2 separate regions of the Homo sapiens genome follow, and region 1 is linked to region 2. A link means that fine-mapping ties the variant in region 2 to the expression of a gene that starts in the linked region. Tissue or cell type: whole blood. Region 2 holds a variant in brackets; the other region holds the start of a gene. All regions are shown on one strand. Distances are from middle to middle.

Region 1 (8,105 bases), 470 kb before region 2:
TTTGTAGCTGCTGAATCTCCCCCCACCCCGTCCCCGACTTCCCTGAAACCTTTTAGACTCATTTTCTACCATCACCTTTTAAGAATATACAAAAGCTGCCAATGAGAAAATAGTAAGGCATTCTTAGGGAGCCAAGAAAATGTGGTGGATGGTGGCACATTGGCTTGAGTTGAGTCGACTCAACTCATATTCAAGGTACCTGCTTGGAACTGCTGAAGCCCTGCCTTGACCATCACTCACATCCTGTATCCTGGGCTCCCCATGCAGTAAAAGAATATTGCATCAAATCCCCAATTCCTCTCTCCATCCGACCCTCTCAACAAAAATACTGTAGGACTTAAAATCATGTTTGCAATTCCTTGTATTTCTGGAAGAGTATTAAACTCAGTAGACAAAATTATAAATGGCCCCAGGGTCAAATTACTGGAATACATTAACCCCTTTATTCATTTATACTCTGCAAAACTTGCCAAATTACATTGGATTTTAAAGACTCATTTGGTTTGATCTGAGAAACCAGTGAAAAGTTAAATCTCACTGTGGTTTTTCATAACTCCACCAAGTCTGGCTTCCACAATTGCTTACCATTGGAACATCCCAACACAAAGGGCAGATGTTTTATTTCATTGTCATCATTTGGATAATCTGATGTCATTTTTGAAATGTGTGTGGTGTGGCCATGGATATTTGTAGTATTGGAACAGAGAAGGGAGGAGATGTGAGGGAATCCGGAGAGCTTAAGGCATCTGCTTTGAAAACTACACACTCCAATGAGAAGTCTTGGATCATGACTGGGAGACCAAAATGACAATTTATGCATTGAGATGAACTTTACTTGGAAAGGGGAAATGGAACACTCAGCTGTTGCTTCATAAAGGCTGGCAACTCCTGCTGGCTGATAAGGCCCCAAGTTCTCACTTATTTTTATTTGGTAACTGTCACAAGGGGTGCCAGAGGCAGAAGGGCCATTTAAAGGGACTGTCTTCCCGGAGGACACCTTAGCAGGTCTGGCTGCCCCAGTCTGCATCTCAGATCTGTGGAATCCTTGTGGTTAGTTGAAGTTAACAAACCCGGTGTGGCACAGCAGTCCCCTGCACAGGGCATGCATATTAAAGCCGACAATGCTTACAAATGTAAATAAGGGCAGATTGATTAGGAACAACATTATCGCTGGGAATGTCGCACTCGCATGCATCAGCAATGAGGCAAATTGGGGGCAGCCTCAGCCCTGACCACCCAAGTCGAGCAGGCTTTTACACTGGCTCCTCTTCCCTTTCTTAAAACGTTACAGAAACAAGGCCAATTAGATCCTCAAAGTAATTCATCTCTAAGTATGAAAAAAGCAGACCACAGGGGAAGCGGCGGGTGGGGGGTGGGGAGATTAAGATAGCGCTCGTTAGAGCCGAGGCTCCGGAGTGCGTCCTGGAACCCACGGGTAGAATTTACAGGCCGGGACCATTGTCTGAGATGCTGAAAAGTTAACCCATCAAACAGCGGGCGAGGGGGCTCAGGGCACTGAAAGCTCCGGGGATCAATGTTCAAAACGTTTAGGAATTAAGTCAAACTAAGGGATATGGGCCTGAGTGGAAGAGGCTTTGCCACTGAAATGACGTGCATGTGGCAGCCGCCGGAACCAGAGGACATGCAGCCGCGTGCGGAGAGTGAGGCGGATCCATTACGGGCACACAGCTTACCATTTCCTTCCAGAATTCCTTCTTCCAAACAAGCTATACTGAAATCCCTCTAGTAAAAGATTGAGACGAAACACTAATAGTTTTGGGCCAAAACGTGGTGGAGAAGTTTGAAAAGACAAACATAGCAACGTGTCTTTGGCTATATGGTTCCTTGCCCTCCAGCAAGCTTGAAATATAAAAAGGCTAACATGCAAAACTAGGGGTACTACCCCCCTCCCCCAGTTTTTAAAAAGCAATTTCCAGAAGCAAACACACAATGGTTCGACTTGAAGTGTCGGCATAACCATTCAGTAAGAAAAGCTAGAATAGTAAACCTCTTTTCCTGTTTTGTGCTATTTATCAAACCTAATAAACATCAGGATCGTACTCAAAGATGAAACTGGCAATGTGTGGAGCCGTCTGAGCTCTTTATCAACTCAGTGTCATTTTCCTCGCATGCTGCCCGCCTGCTTTCCGAGTTTCCGCAGCCCTTCCCTGAGGCACTCACAAAATCACGTGCTCCTTAAGCGGTCTGAGTTTTGAATTTCCGCGCTGGCCCGGTGCTCAGGTCCCCCTCCGGATCCCGCGAACGCCCCCAAACACCTCCACCCCGTCTCCCTCTCTTCCTCGGGACATCCCGCCCTGACCCCGGCACCGCATACGGTTTGCGGGTTAGGGGGTCGGGGGAAGGGCCTCCCCCTGAAGCCGGGGAGGAGGAGAGGCTGGAGGGAAGGTGGCCAGGCTGGTGGGGGAGGGGAGATTGAGGGAGGGAGCGGGGCGAGGGAGGAAGGAGAAGGCGCAGGCCGAAGGAAGGAAGCGGGGAGGGGAAACCGCCGGGGAGGAAGGAAGGGGGCGGGGAGAGCCGGCGGACGGGCCCCCTGCGGGAGCCGCGTGGACCGCCCCGGTGGCCGGCGCGCCCCGCCGCAGCCCCCAGCGCGCCCGGGCAGCCAGCGCGGGGCCGCTGAATGGGCAGGGACTCGTGAGCGCGACCATTGGCCGGTCGCGGGGAGGCGGCGCGGGCATTGGGCAGCGTAAGGGGGCCGGTCCGCCTTCAGGAATGTACTACGGCGCGTCCGGCACGTCCGTCCGCGCCGGCTGGGCGCGCGCCTCGCCTGGGCTCTCGGGAGACCGCGCTGGAGGCCCGGAGCCGGCCCGGCGCATCCGCCTCCCTACCTACTCTGCCCCGGCCGCGCGGGCGCGGGGAGTCCGGGAGCCGGGCGCGCGCGCGCACCGGGCCTCCTGGCGCGGGGTCACGTGGCCACCGGAGCTCCGCCTTCTCCCTGCTCCTCCCCCTTTCCCTCCATCTGGGTTTCTTTCTTTCCTTTCCTTTCTTTCTTCTTTTTTTTTCAATGAACATACACCGTGCGCATCTTAAAGCCACACCGCCCCATTTCACGACTTCACTAGACTTCTCGCTACTGCCAGTCCCTCTGCAGTTCAACCCCGTTTAAAAAAAAAAATAAAGTGAAGCAAATCAAGGGTTTGCGGGTCGGGTTCCTACCGCAGGGAGGAACGTAATAACTTGGAAACGTAAGAAAAACACATTCCACTTTCCGAAAACAAAAATTTTTTTAAATAAAAAGCCTAGTTGTGTAGACGTGTCTGGCTCCAGAATCCACCTCAAAGGGTCGCGTGTTTTCCCCCTCCGCGGGAAGCGAATCCCCGGGATGCCTTGGTGACACTGGACGCGGTGTCGGGACGAATCCTCGCGATCCGCGCACAGTTTGTTTTCAATGAATCCAGCATCGGGGCATTTATAATCTCCTACGTCATACTATTATTAAATATAACATGCATACCGAGTTTTGTAAAAAAAAATACTGACTATATAAACATCTGGTTAATAAAAAGGGGTGTACAAATGAACCCAAAATAATCAGGAAAACTTTACTCTCTCAAGGAAACAATTCCGTTTCTCTAAGTTGTAAAAAAAGATTCTGTTGTTTCTCTTTTACTTATGTCACATTCGAGATTCAAATAAAAACGCCTCTGCCTCTACAAGACTGCTTCGGTGTCTGGATTCCACGTTTATAGAACACTGACTCCTTCAAACCAAGACTGTGTTTTTTTTTTTTTTAAGTTGGGGGGAGAAAGCGGCTGGGGGGCAGACGGATTTTAAGAAAGATGGCTTTTCCCAACGTCCTTGCTTTCCTCTTTAACTTTCCATTCTGTTTATCTTAATGCGAGGCGTTGTTCCCTGCAAGAGCCTAAGTCTTCCCTTTAGTTATAAAAGAAAAGAGAAGAGGAAAAAAAAATCTGGCACACACTGGCGCACTATCCAGCACGCTGTCATTATTGGTGCAGGCCTGGGAATGCGAGCCGGACCTCCCAGTATTTGCTGCAGCTTGAGGCCAAGGTGCCTCTGAAAGGCTTTTCTTTGAGGAATTTCAGAAATTGTTTAAGCGCTTAAAAAAATATTACATTTCCCCCCGTGTCTACCGCGAGGCAAATGTTCGTGTGTGTGCGTGCGCGCGCGTGTGTGCGCGCAAAGGCATCCCACAAAAAGAAGACACTGTTGAAAAGAAAAGGAATAAGAGAGAAAGGAGGGGGAGCATTCCTTAATGGAAGTATTGCATGCGAGAAGGTTGGCGCTCTCAGAGGCTGCCCCGAAGCCGAGGATGCACACACTGGGTTGCCTACCTGGGTGGTCTCTCTACTTTGGTGAGCTGTTGCTAAGCAGCTAATAATAGTCATGTTTGCTGAGTAATTTCTGCCCTCCGCGAGCCAATCGCGTCGCAGAAACCCAAGCCATCTGACAGCCCCGGGGGCGGGAGCTCCAGCCTTTTTCTCTTTCGCTCGCTCTCTCCCCCTCCACCCCCTCCCCTCCCCTCCTCCTCTTCTTTCTCCAAATGGAGAGAGTTCTTTTTTTTCTTCTTCCATCTCATCTATTGAATCAAGGAGCTGCTGCGGCCGCTGCCCGCTGCACACACACAGAGCGGAGTCCCCAGGTCCCGGGAGCGAGAGAGGCGCGCTGCACGGGGACAGAATGGTCCAGCGGGTTGCCGAGGAGCACAAGAAAGCAGAGTCCGGGACCGAGCAGCCACCGCGAACCCAGCAGCCAGAGCCCGAGCAGCCCGAGCAGCAGCTCCTGGAGCCGCCACCGCCAGCAGCAGCCACCGCGGGAGCAGCGGCAGCTGCGGCTGCCCGGGCCCGGCAGCGCTGAGACCCGCCGGGCACCCTCGGACCCCGCGGCGGCGGCGGCTCTGCGCTTGCCCTCCGCGGCCGCTCGGGCGACCCGGGAGGCGCCGAGAGAGCCAGCGCGGCCGGCGGGAGCAGCGGGGATTCGCTGGCTCTTTCTGCAGTGAAGGGGTCGCGGCGCGGGGCGGGGGGCGGGTAGGGGGAGTTGGGGACCGCAAGGAGTGCCGCGGAAGCGCCCGAAGGACAGGCTCGCTCGGCGCGCCGGCTCTCGCTCTTCCGCGAACTGGATGTGGGCAGCGGCGGCCGCAGAGACCTCGGGACCCCCGCGCAATGTGGCAATGGAAGGCGCAGGGTCTGACTCCCCGGCAGCGGCCGCGGCCGCAGCGGCAGCAGCGCCCGCCGTGTGAGCAGCAGCAGCGGCTGGTCTGTCAACCGGAGCCCGAGCCCGAGCAGCCTGCGGCCAGCAGCGTCCTCGCAAGCCGAGCGCCCAGGCGCGCCAGGAGCCCGCAGCAGCGGCAGCAGCGCGCCGGGCCGCCCGGGAAGCCTCCGTCCCCGCGGCGGCGGCGGCGGCGGCGGCAACATGGCCTCGGCTGGTAACGCCGCCGAGCCCCAGGACCGCGGCGGCGGCGGCAGCGGCTGTATCGGTGCCCCGGGACGGCCGGCTGGAGGCGGGAGGCGCAGACGGACGGGGGGGCTGCGCCGTGCTGCCGCGCCGGACCGGGACTATCTGCACCGGCCCAGCTACTGCGACGCCGCCTTCGCTCTGGAGCAGATTTCCAAGGTGCATTTCAGACTCTCTCCTCCCACTTTCTCTTCCCTCCTCTAACTCTTTGGGATCGCCCCCGCCACACACAAACACACACACTCTCTTCCTCTCTCTCTCACACACACACACACACTCACTCACACCTCTCCAGGAAAAGCAGCAGACAAATGGGGATTGAAAAATTCAAACCCTCCCTCTGGTCCTGGGAGGAAAGGGCTGTCTGAGGTCCGCAGGGGGTGGAGGTGTGTGTGTGTGCGTGTGTGTGTGTGTATACACACGCCCTCCCTGGTGTGCCTTTTCCGGAGCACTGGAAAGCCGTCCACGGCGGACCACCTCAAGGGCGGCCGCGGCACTGTCCTGCCCCGTGCCCCCTGCCCTGAACTTCTTCCTCCTGCGCCCCTGCCCCTATTTGCAGCCTAAACTCCTGTACGGCTGCCACATTTCTTAACATCTTGGAGGGGGAGGCGGAGTGGAGAGAGGCGGAGAGAGGAAGGGGGGAGGGAGCCGAAATAAAGGTGGTTTCCTTTTTTGGCAGCCAGTTTTGGTTTTGTTGAGCATGAAATCTCTGCTCCCTTAAAAAATTATTCTCGGAAAAAGATATCCCCCCCGTTTTCCAGGTTTTGAGCCGCCTCTCCTTAGGGCCTGGTCGGGGGAGGAAAAGTTGTAAACAAATTGCCACCTTAAATTCGCGGTGCGAGTCTGCGGAGCTGCCGGGTTCATTGTGTTTACGAGGCTCGCTGAAATGTGTGGAATCCAGGGAAGGCGAGCACCCAGACGGGGGCCCGCCGGGGCCGCGGCCAGCGCCGGGGAAATGCCGCGCCGGGGAGCAGCCTGCGCCGGCCTGAGCCCTTCCCTTTGCACTCGGCTGTTTTTTACGTTTAACCAGAAAGGAAGGGAGAGGAGGGAAAGATCCATGTGGCTGCCCTCTTCCGATCACAAATATTGTCGTAAGTTGCAGCTGGCTGCCCCACTTCCTAATTCAGCTCACACAGCCTCTCCCCACGCTATGGAAATGCGTCGGGAGTGAACTCCGGCGGCCGCGCTCACCACGTGGATCCCCACTTACTACCATTCTCGGCGGGGGTCCAGTTGGGGGAACCCGCAATATGTTGTTCCAAAGAGCGCTCGCCCCTAGCGCCCGTCCCCGAGGGTGATGGACAGAGCAGGACTGGTTTGCTGGCTCCTGAACCTTGGGCTCCATCGCTGGGATTACGCAGCCCCTCCCTTCTCAGCTCTGGGGTGAATATTGTCTGTGTCGAGTGGTTTCTCTCCTCTCTACCTCGGCTTCCTCTTCTGTATTGCAGCCCCAGTGCCCCAAGTCGCTCAGGGATCCCGCGGGTGGGGGCGCCCTGATGTCCCCGAGGTGCAGCTCCCACGCTGCGGCCCGGCTTTATGACCGAGCCCCCCATGACGCTCAGATCCGCCGGGGCTGCAGTCTCGAGGGCGAGTCCGTGTGCCGCGGCCACCCGCGCCCCCACGGCTGTTGGGGGCTCACCGGGCGGGTGCGCGCAAGCGGGCGTGGGCGCGCGGGCCGCGACTCCCCGGCGCTCACTCCTCCCTTCTGCTTCGTCCCCAGGGGAAGGCTACTGGCCGGAAAGCGCCGCTGTGGCTGAGAGCGAAGTTTCAGAGACTCTTATTTAAACTGGGTTGTTACATTCAAAAAAACTGCGGCAAGTTCTTGGTTGTGGGCCTCCTCATATTTGGGGCCTTCGCGGTGGGATTAAAAGCAGCGAACCTCGAGACCAACGTGGAGGAGCTGTGGGTGGAAGGTAAGAGCGCCCGCCGCGGCGCCCGCGCCCCCGGCCCGGTCCCTCCTCGCGGTTGATAGAGATATTCGCCAGCGCACACCTAGAGCCTGGCTGCGGCCGGCGAAACCCCCTGCCCGCACCCGGGGGATTGTTTATTGTTTGGGCGCCTGGCCGGGAGCCAGGCCCGCCCGACAAAGGCCGCGCTGTAATCTACTCGGGGCGCTGCGCCGGCCGAGGTGTGGTGGGAGAGAGCGGCGGGGGCGGGACGGGGGCGCGGGGCCCCTCCGGGACGGACCACTCTGCGCGCCGGGGGCCCCGGGCCCGCCGCCGCTGCCGCTGTCCGCCTGGGCCGCGCCCCGAGAGGCGCCCCGGGGCTGGCCTCTCCCGGCCCCGCTCCGCGGCCCGGCTTTCTTCTCTCCCCCACCCCCACCCACCGCGTCCAAAGAAAAAGGAGTCGGGGAGAGCCAGAGGCCACCCCTCCGGCTGGCTGGAGTGTGCGCGCCCCCGGCGGCCGCGGCCGCCGCGCTGGGGAGGGCCGGGGGCGGGCGCAGCGCGGGGCTGCGGAGGCGGCGGCGTGTGTGGTCCTGTTTTTGGACAGCTTTCAACTCTGAGGGAAAAAAACATTTGTCTCAAGGTACAAAAAACGCGGGGTGGGGGTGGAAGGAGTGGAAAAAAAAATAGTAAGGCACAGACTGGAACGCATGTTTGCAAAGTAGATTAATGTTTCCTCGCGGGTGGGGGCTTTTTACATGGAATTATTCTGGGGGAAGGCTGCATTTT
Region 2 (8,105 bases):
AGGCTGGAGTGCAGTGGCGCAATCTCGGCTCACTGCAAGCTCTGCCTCCTGGGTTCATGCCACTCTCCTGCCTCAGCCTCCCGAGTAGCTGGGACTACAGGTGTCTGCCACCACGCCCAGCTAATTTTTTGCATTTTTAGTGGAGATGGGGTTTCACCCTGTTAGCCAGGATGGTCTTGATCTCCTGACCTCGTGATCCGCCCGCCTCGGCCTCCCAAAGTGCTGGGATTACAGGCATGAGCCACCGCGCCTGGCCAATGACATCCTTTAAAAGCTCTTGGCTACACTTGAATTCATCAGTTTCCTTTTAAAAGAGGAAGGTTTCTTCCCGTTCCCTCCCAGATCCCTAAGTGTGCTGCTTTATAGATGATTTCAGGCTCAGTTCTGAAGGTTGAAGAGTTTGTTGGGTTTGGGGGGAGGGGAGAAAAGGCGGCTAGATAGGAGGTCTACGGGCCTTCTGGGTCCGGTTCTTTAACTGCTCTGCTGCTTTTATAGCGCCACGGAGGCCGAGGCAAAGCGTGTCAATGAAACAAAGGACAAACATGAAACAAAGCGCCAGGGGCCACCGCGTCTTGATCAAATCTAAGAGCGATTCCAGTTAATGAGTAACATAACCCCACCACCTTTTTCATGGCTTTAATTATTACAGCCGGTAAGAAATATTCAAGCCATCCCTGTTTAGTGATGTTTTATTTACCCCTAAAGGCTGAAGTCTTCATTAAGTGCAGAAGAGTTGTGTTCAATTCAACACATATGGTGAGATCACAAACTGGCTTATTGTACTTTTTTAGTGTCTCTCCCTCTCCACACACACACACACACACACACACACACACACACCCCCAAGGACTCTGAGTACACAGTATACAATCTCAATCTGGCAATATCACAATTTCAAATTACCACAAGGATGATTTTTTTTTTTTAAATCTTATTTCTGAATAGTTTCCTTATTCTCAATTTTTCTAGCACAAATCCATCTTCTCATAAGGCCATTTCCTACACTGATTAAAGCGCAAGTCACTCTTGCTACAAAGGAGTCTTTCTTTGGCCCCAAATGTTTCACTCACATACATGAAAACTGGCTAAGTTCCTGAATGGCACAGAGCCTTTTGGTTTGAGAAGCCTGACAAAATGTCTAAGTAGTAAAAAGAACTGGTAAAACGTGAGAGCCTGTTATTTATTGCAATTCACATATCCACACGATCAACAGCCATTACTTGCTTTTTTTTTTTTTGGAGTGTGGAGACTTAACTCTGTCATGGAACTCCCTGATTATGGTATTTTCTGAAGTTCACAATGTTATGTATTCTAAAGGGAAAAAATTAACCAGCCATGGCTTTCCAGGTACAATCTTTGAGGAAGGGAGACTGTTTACCGTGTTTTCTATCAGAAAAGGAATGTTTTCAGCTCATCTGCACTTGGATCAATATTTTTATCTTTGGGTATCATTTGGCATTGCTGTCACTGGAGCTGCAAAAAACATGGGAGGAGCCAGGATAACCCAAAATTCTCATCCTGCACTTTGCAAAAGAGAGGACAAGCTGGGTGTCGCTCTGTCATGTGTGGTCCCACCTCCAGGAGCTTGGGCCAGGAGGGAACTGGGAATGCCTATGCCCATCAGCAATAGGCGTCCTGGGGGCACCTGGTCAGAAAGACATAGAGGAGGGGAGGGAGAAAGGTCCCTGCTCTCCTCTTTCATCGCAGAGATGGAGACAACTTCTGAGGAAGAGCTGGAATCCTGGGGTCAGAGGAGGCAGCCCAGGGGGAAATGCACATGGCCTGGGCCTCAATGCCGTTCCTTCAGAAAAAGGGGGTTACCACGTGGCTCTGTGGTGGCCCCAAGGTGGGAAGATGAACTTGGCTTTGTGTCTGATCATCCACTTTATTAGCAGGATCACATATCGTGGGACACAGCCTTTCTTCCGCTCCAGTTCTCAAGAAACCATTCCTGATAGCAATATAATTCTAAATGTGAGTAATAAAATGCATAATAAAGAGGCTGGGCACTACATTTTACAGAGGATGGGAAAGCAAAGTTGATTTTGTACGTGCAACTGTTCCTGTCAATGGACAAACAAGCCTGTGGGAAGGGACTGGGGCAGCAGAATCCCCTGGTGTGGCTCTGGCCTCAGGGTCCCCTGACTGTGTGCCTCCTCTCTCCTCTACCTACTGAGGTCCCCTGGGAGGGAGGAGAAGCCACCTGTAACCTCTTGCTGCTCAGGTATTAAAGCAGGGCTGATGAGGCCTGTGCCTCTGAGCTCCTCAATGCCCCAATGCTATTTTTATTATGTTCCCAGAATTAAATTCAAATAGCATCTTTAACATGCTTTAGTTCTGTGGGAAAAGGAAACACATCAATCATGCAATAACTATAAAAATTTAACATCCTGAAACCTGTTTTTACAAACTCTAAATAAAAAGTCAGCAATCTTAGTCTGCCATCACAAATCATTGTTCTTGACAATAAATAATGATAGTGGCTATTTTAAAGATTTCTTAAAATTAACATGAAAGGTGAATGAATGAATGAATGAATGAATGAATGAAGAAACATGTCTATAGCAGGGATAAACAAATTAGCAAGCTCCTAAGTTGTTTCTGTTTATACAGCCTGCTTAAAGCTTTTGAGAGAAATATTACTTATGTTAAATGTATTTAATTATAGGATAGGAATTCCTTAAAACTATGGTCCAGTTTTATTTTTTGTTTTTGAGACAGGGTCTCACTCTGTCACCCAGGTTGGAGTGCAGTGGTGTGAACACAGCTTACTATAGCCTGGACCTCTTGGGGCTCCGGTGATCCTCTCACCTCAGCCTTCCAAGTTGCTGGAACTACAGGTGTGCACCATCACACTTGCATCATTTTTTAGTATTTTTTTTTGTAGAGATGGGATTTCACCATGTTGCCCAGGCTTGTCTCAAATTGCTGGGCTCAAGTGATCTGCCCGCCTCAGCCTCCCAAAGTGCTGGGAATACAGGCATGAGCCACCGCACCTGGCCAACAATTTCAGTTTTTAAAAAATTTTCCCATAGGTCTTATTTTTCTCATGCCCACAATACTACTTTTCTTTGGACCATTCTCAATTGCTCCATCTTGCTCAAGATGCAGACTCCAACAGCATGGGCCGATCCCATGTTAACTCCACCATTATGCTATTCAATATTTAAAGACATTGAACACATGCTCACATGTGTTCCATTTGACTTCTGTCCATCCAGAAGGCCCACAATAACCCTCTTTCAAACCCAGAGCTGGTCACTTTGGCACATGAATCTAAACAGTGCTTGGTATAACAGGATCATTTCGATTGCCAAATTTACTGGCAATCCTATGTTAAGCCCGCCTCATCTGTGAACTCATCGAGGTTATCCGTAAGTCCCAATTTCTAGTACAGATATTAAGCCACACCCCAGAACTGCTCCTATCACCTCCCTACTGGCGGCAACGGAGGCACTGATGAGCACCCTTTGGGTCAGACCTGTCCGCCTAGAAGTAACCTGGACTTACCGAGCTTGCTGCTAGCAATAAGAAGATGTACAACTTCTAAGAATCTTAATGTAAGACTAATTAAAAGAACAGGAAAAGAAATGAAATCTCCCTTAACAAGACTCGTTCCCTTGAGGAGATGCCTTCTCTTGCAGGGCACCTTGGAGGCAGAGCACACCTGATGTGCTTGCGTTGTAGAGACATTATCACTGTGCAACAAAAGAAGTTATTTATAGCTGCTTTGTCTTTATTTCCTAGGTCTAACCACCAACATCTCTACTTAGCCAGGTAGTGGCCTGGATTTGTTTGCTATAGTTACTGAGACTTGTGGCAAACATGGTTTATATCATTAGGCTTTTTATTGTTTCATTCTGTTTTGGGGGTGTGTATGTGTTTATATTCAGATTTAAAATGTGTGCAAGTTGCCTAGAAACCAAAGTGCAGAATTCACAACCTAATGCATGCTAAATTGCAGCTGCTGGAAAACATGTTCCTTCACCTACAGTCTGGGCTGGGCTCATTCCTATC[T/C]ACCCTGTCATTCAAGTTTGATGGTATCTAGTTTTCCAGGGAGTTTGGTTTAGTTATATCATCACTTTTGGTATAACTGGAAAGAAAGTGTTTTTTGTTTTTCACCTTGCTTAAAAGCCCATTTTTTCTCCCCAGAAAACTTAGGTTCTTCTCCTGCATCAGGACAGTACATATAACTTTCGGTGTGGGAGACACAGGCTCAAGAGGCCGAGAACTTGCTTGCATGGAGCATGGACGGACAGACAGCTGGATGGAAGGTTTCTCACATTACTGTATTTCCCACACCGAGCACCTTTCATCTAAGGAGCTCCACACCATCTCATACGTGCCTGAGGTGCCAACCTTCCCCACCACGGCATGACACTCAGGGTCTCAAGGCAGAAAGCCGGTCAAGATCACTGTAAATTAGGAAGTGAAGCCAAATAAGCCCTTAGGAATGTATTAGCTTGCACTGAGAGGTACATTACTTACAGAAGCCCCTTCTACTGTTGCCGCAATTCTTCAGGAGTAAGCATGGCCCTTCCCCAAGAGCAGCTGAAGGCCCACAGACAGACGCTGAAGAGGAACAAATAGTGCTCCAGGGTTTTTCTTTTCAGTTTCACTAGCTGGACCATTCCTACTCCTGACATGCTCTTTCCTAAGTCCTTCAGCAATAAGAAACTGTGCCCAGAACAAAAGTTATGTTTTATTTTATGCCACAAAATTAGGAGTGGAAAAGAAATGTGAATATCTTATGAGAAAAAAATGCAAGTTAAACTTCCTGGAAAAGACCTGAATTCATCGAGCTTTGGTGCTTGTATACTATAAGCTCAGACAATAAAATTCTACCCACTCTCTTTAACTGAATGCGGTAATACTTTTGACAACAACTTTAAGGTGTCAAGGAGAAAAATATTTTTCATGGTTAACTGTACAGCCTATCATCTTCTATCAATGAACACTAATCAGTTTTCTGGCTGAAATAAAGAATGACTTCAGAAAGAGTTCTTAAGATAAAATGGTTAGGGATTGATAAAGGAAAACCACCCCCCTTTAAAAAATCAAAATAAAGGCTAAAAGGTGAGGTAAAAAAAAAATTATCCTGAAACTTCATAAAATAGCTATTTAAAACCAAATCAATAATACTGCTGTGAGGTCTTTTTAGAAAAAAATTAAAAGCCTCTATGGGTTTGCTACAATTTTCATGCCCACTCTTAGGCCGAAGACAGCTCATACATCTGTGGTGTTCAACTAACTAGCAACTTAGGTTCTGAATAAAAAGTACACAGAGATGTTACCACTTTCTGCAAGTAGCACACTGGAATGCATTATCTGCCACATCACAGGGAGCATCCATCCCATGACAATGACATTGTCAAAAGATGGCACACGGGCTGCAGACTGCTAAGGCAAGCTTGTGGCCAGGCTGGAAGACTGACAAGATGAAAAGATCTCTAAAAACCCACAGTCCCTTCAGGGTGACTTTAAGCCAAGGTGCCCAGGCAGCAGCTGTCCCTCCATCTCTCAGCTGAGCTATGCTTGGCCACCTCTGAAACAAACTATAGTTTTATTCCCCACAAAAAAAAAAGAAGAAGAAGAAAGAAGAACAAGAAAGGAGAAGAGGAGGAGGAAGAAGAGGAGGGCGGGGAGGAGGAGGAGAAATAAAACAAAACCCAACATTCTGACATTTACCGAAAGGAATGAAGTGCTGCTCTTGTTTATAAAGAGCAAGTAAACACATACTTTATGGCAGATATTTGAAGATAATTAAAAAGTAAGGAAACTTTTAAAAAAGATTAAATACCTTTAAAAGAGATGAAAGATTTTCTCTCACCCCAACCCCCAACTATGATTCTTGTCATTTAAAGGGCAACTACTATTAGGAATTTGTTTAAAAGTTGGAATTTTTTTTCCAAAGGCAAAGATTTAAAGCAAGTAAGACCTATCAGATAAATTCCATCTTCATGAATTATAACTTAAAGAAATAAAACATTTTATTTTCATGCTTTCAAATATGAAATGTTTTAAAATATCCTGAGAAATCAGTGGTAAAATCTTAAGAAAGCAGGCAAGATCAGTGGAAGATTCCACCTGTCCTCAAGCCTAGGCTTAGGGAAAATGAGATCACACAAGATCATATGCACATCCTCACAAAGGAACCTTTAAACAGGACAAAAATTCTTAAAGCCATGTAAATCACTAGACAGCAAAAATCTAGGGAGATTTAAAACACAAATATTTGCATAATCCCTTCTATTCAAGAAAACTCAGTGTGACCACCATCACGGAAACCTCTCCCGGGGGTCTACAGTCACCACCCTCAGACCTATTTTCTGGGTAAAGCATCTGAAAGCATGTGGTAGGAGGGAAGTCTGTCATAACTGAGTGAATGATTGGGGGCCGGTGCCTGCTTTTACTGACAAGCAAGTAAGGCCACACAGCAATTTCTTTAAAAAAAAAAAATTATCTGGGCTGGGCGCAGTGGCTCATGCCTGTAATCCCAGCACTTTGGGAGGCTGAGGCGGGCAGATCACCCGAGGTTGGGAGTTCAAGACCAGCCTGACCAACATGGAGAAACCTCGTCTCTACTAAAAAAAATACAAAATTAGCCGGGCATGGTGGTGCATGCCTGTAATCCCAGCTACTCAGGAGGCTGAGGCAGGAGAATCACTTGAACCCAGGAGCCGGAGGTTGCGGTGAGTCGAGATCGCGCCACTGCACTCCAGCCTGGGCAACAAGAGCGAAACTCCGTCTCAAAAAAAAAAAAAAAAAAAAAAAAAAAATTATCTGAAGCTGGTGTCAAAGAGATTTATTTTAAAAAACAGCAAATCACTAATACAAAGGAAATTCCTTAGAGATTTACTACCCACCTTAGATACCTTTACTTAGATTTTTCAAGATGTTCCAACTGGCCCTGAACTTGATTGCATCAAACTGTTAGGTCTGGCTGCTGACTGCTCCTACGAGATACATCACAGGAGCAGACTTCCCCAACATGCCAACAATTAATGTCCAGGTTCAGGAGAAAACTGGTATGTCATCAATGTAGGGATGGTTTTCTTTCAACCAAACACCGCATGTTCTCACTCACAGGTGGGAATTGAACAATGAGAACACACGGAAACAGGGTGGGGAACATCACACACGGGGGCCTGTCATGGGGTGGGGGACAGGGGGAGGGATAGCATTAGGAGAAATACCTAACGTAAATGATGGGTTGATGGGTGCAGCAAACCAACATGGCACATGTATACCTATGTAACAAGGCTGCACATGTATCCTAGAACTTAAAAGTATAAAAAAAAAAAAAAGAAAAAAGAAAAAGAAATGGTTTTCTTTCAAATATTAAATGAAATGTTGGGTGTTATTGGATGTCTTCCCACTTCTCTCCCAAGTTCATAACAAAACCTGAATCCTATCAATCAATCCAATGCAGCGATTAGAGGAAATCCCAGCAAGGCCCGCTTCTCAAGCTCCTCTTCTGAGAGATCTGTATCAGCAAACCAGGATCCGCTTTATCTCAGTGTGCTTCATGTTGAGTCAAAGACTGTCAGTTGATCAGAATTAAGAGCAAACTTGATCCAACCTTTCCCTATTAAAAACACAAGGGTATTTACATCTTCCAAACAAATGCCTTCAGCCCATATAAAAACTGATGAGCCAAAATGAGGCCTCGCAGGCCACTGTGTGTGATTCAAGGGAAAAATTATTAATATCCAAGTAGAGTTTCATGATTATCTCTCCTTTTCAAATTGCTTCAACCTCAGCCCTCATGTCATTCCTGACCCATGTATAATTCTCAAATTATAACAAGCATAGTCTCAAATCCTCTCATCTAAATGACCTGTACAGACACTTAAGTAGCATTTACCCATTTGGTAGATTCTTTGGTATTTCCTAATACTATTCTATCAAACCCACCTATATTGCAAGGAAGGAGAAAATGGGAGAAAACACGTCTTAATGGGTGTCTGGGTCTATTTTCCCTTGTCAAAGATCTCCTTTATGAAGACACCTGTCCAAATTACTATATAAAAGTACAGTAAAAATAAAGTGGAAGCAATCGCTACCTACATCTTGGCTTCAAGCAAAAAACAATAATATCACTA

The links. PIP is the estimated chance that this variant, and not a neighbour inherited with it, causes the effect.
Region 1: it holds the start of PTCH1, and the variant in region 2 is fine-mapped to the expression of PTCH1 in whole blood (INTERVAL, PIP 0.94).

What each region holds. Positions count from the first base shown.
Region 1 is chr9:95,505,648-95,513,752 of GRCh38, reverse strand. PTCH1 (patched 1) reads left to right here and starts at 4,487. Exons shown (of 24, transcript NM_000264.5): 1 at 4,487-5,592; 2 at 7,154-7,346. The coding sequence starts at 5,392. RefSeq lists enhancers at 721-1,693, 1,559-2,320, 2,321-3,084, 4,038-4,587, 6,173-6,806 and silencers at 2,248-2,297, 2,518-2,957, 5,232-5,551, 6,332-6,381, 6,912-7,151 and 2 more.
Region 2 is chr9:95,034,182-95,042,286 of GRCh38, reverse strand. The region is part of intron 13 of AOPEP (aminopeptidase O (putative)); the gene reads right to left. Among named protein-coding and RNA genes, the nearest start is that of MIR6081, 27 kb to the left of the region's middle. The variant T/C (reference allele first, on the strand shown) is at 4,018.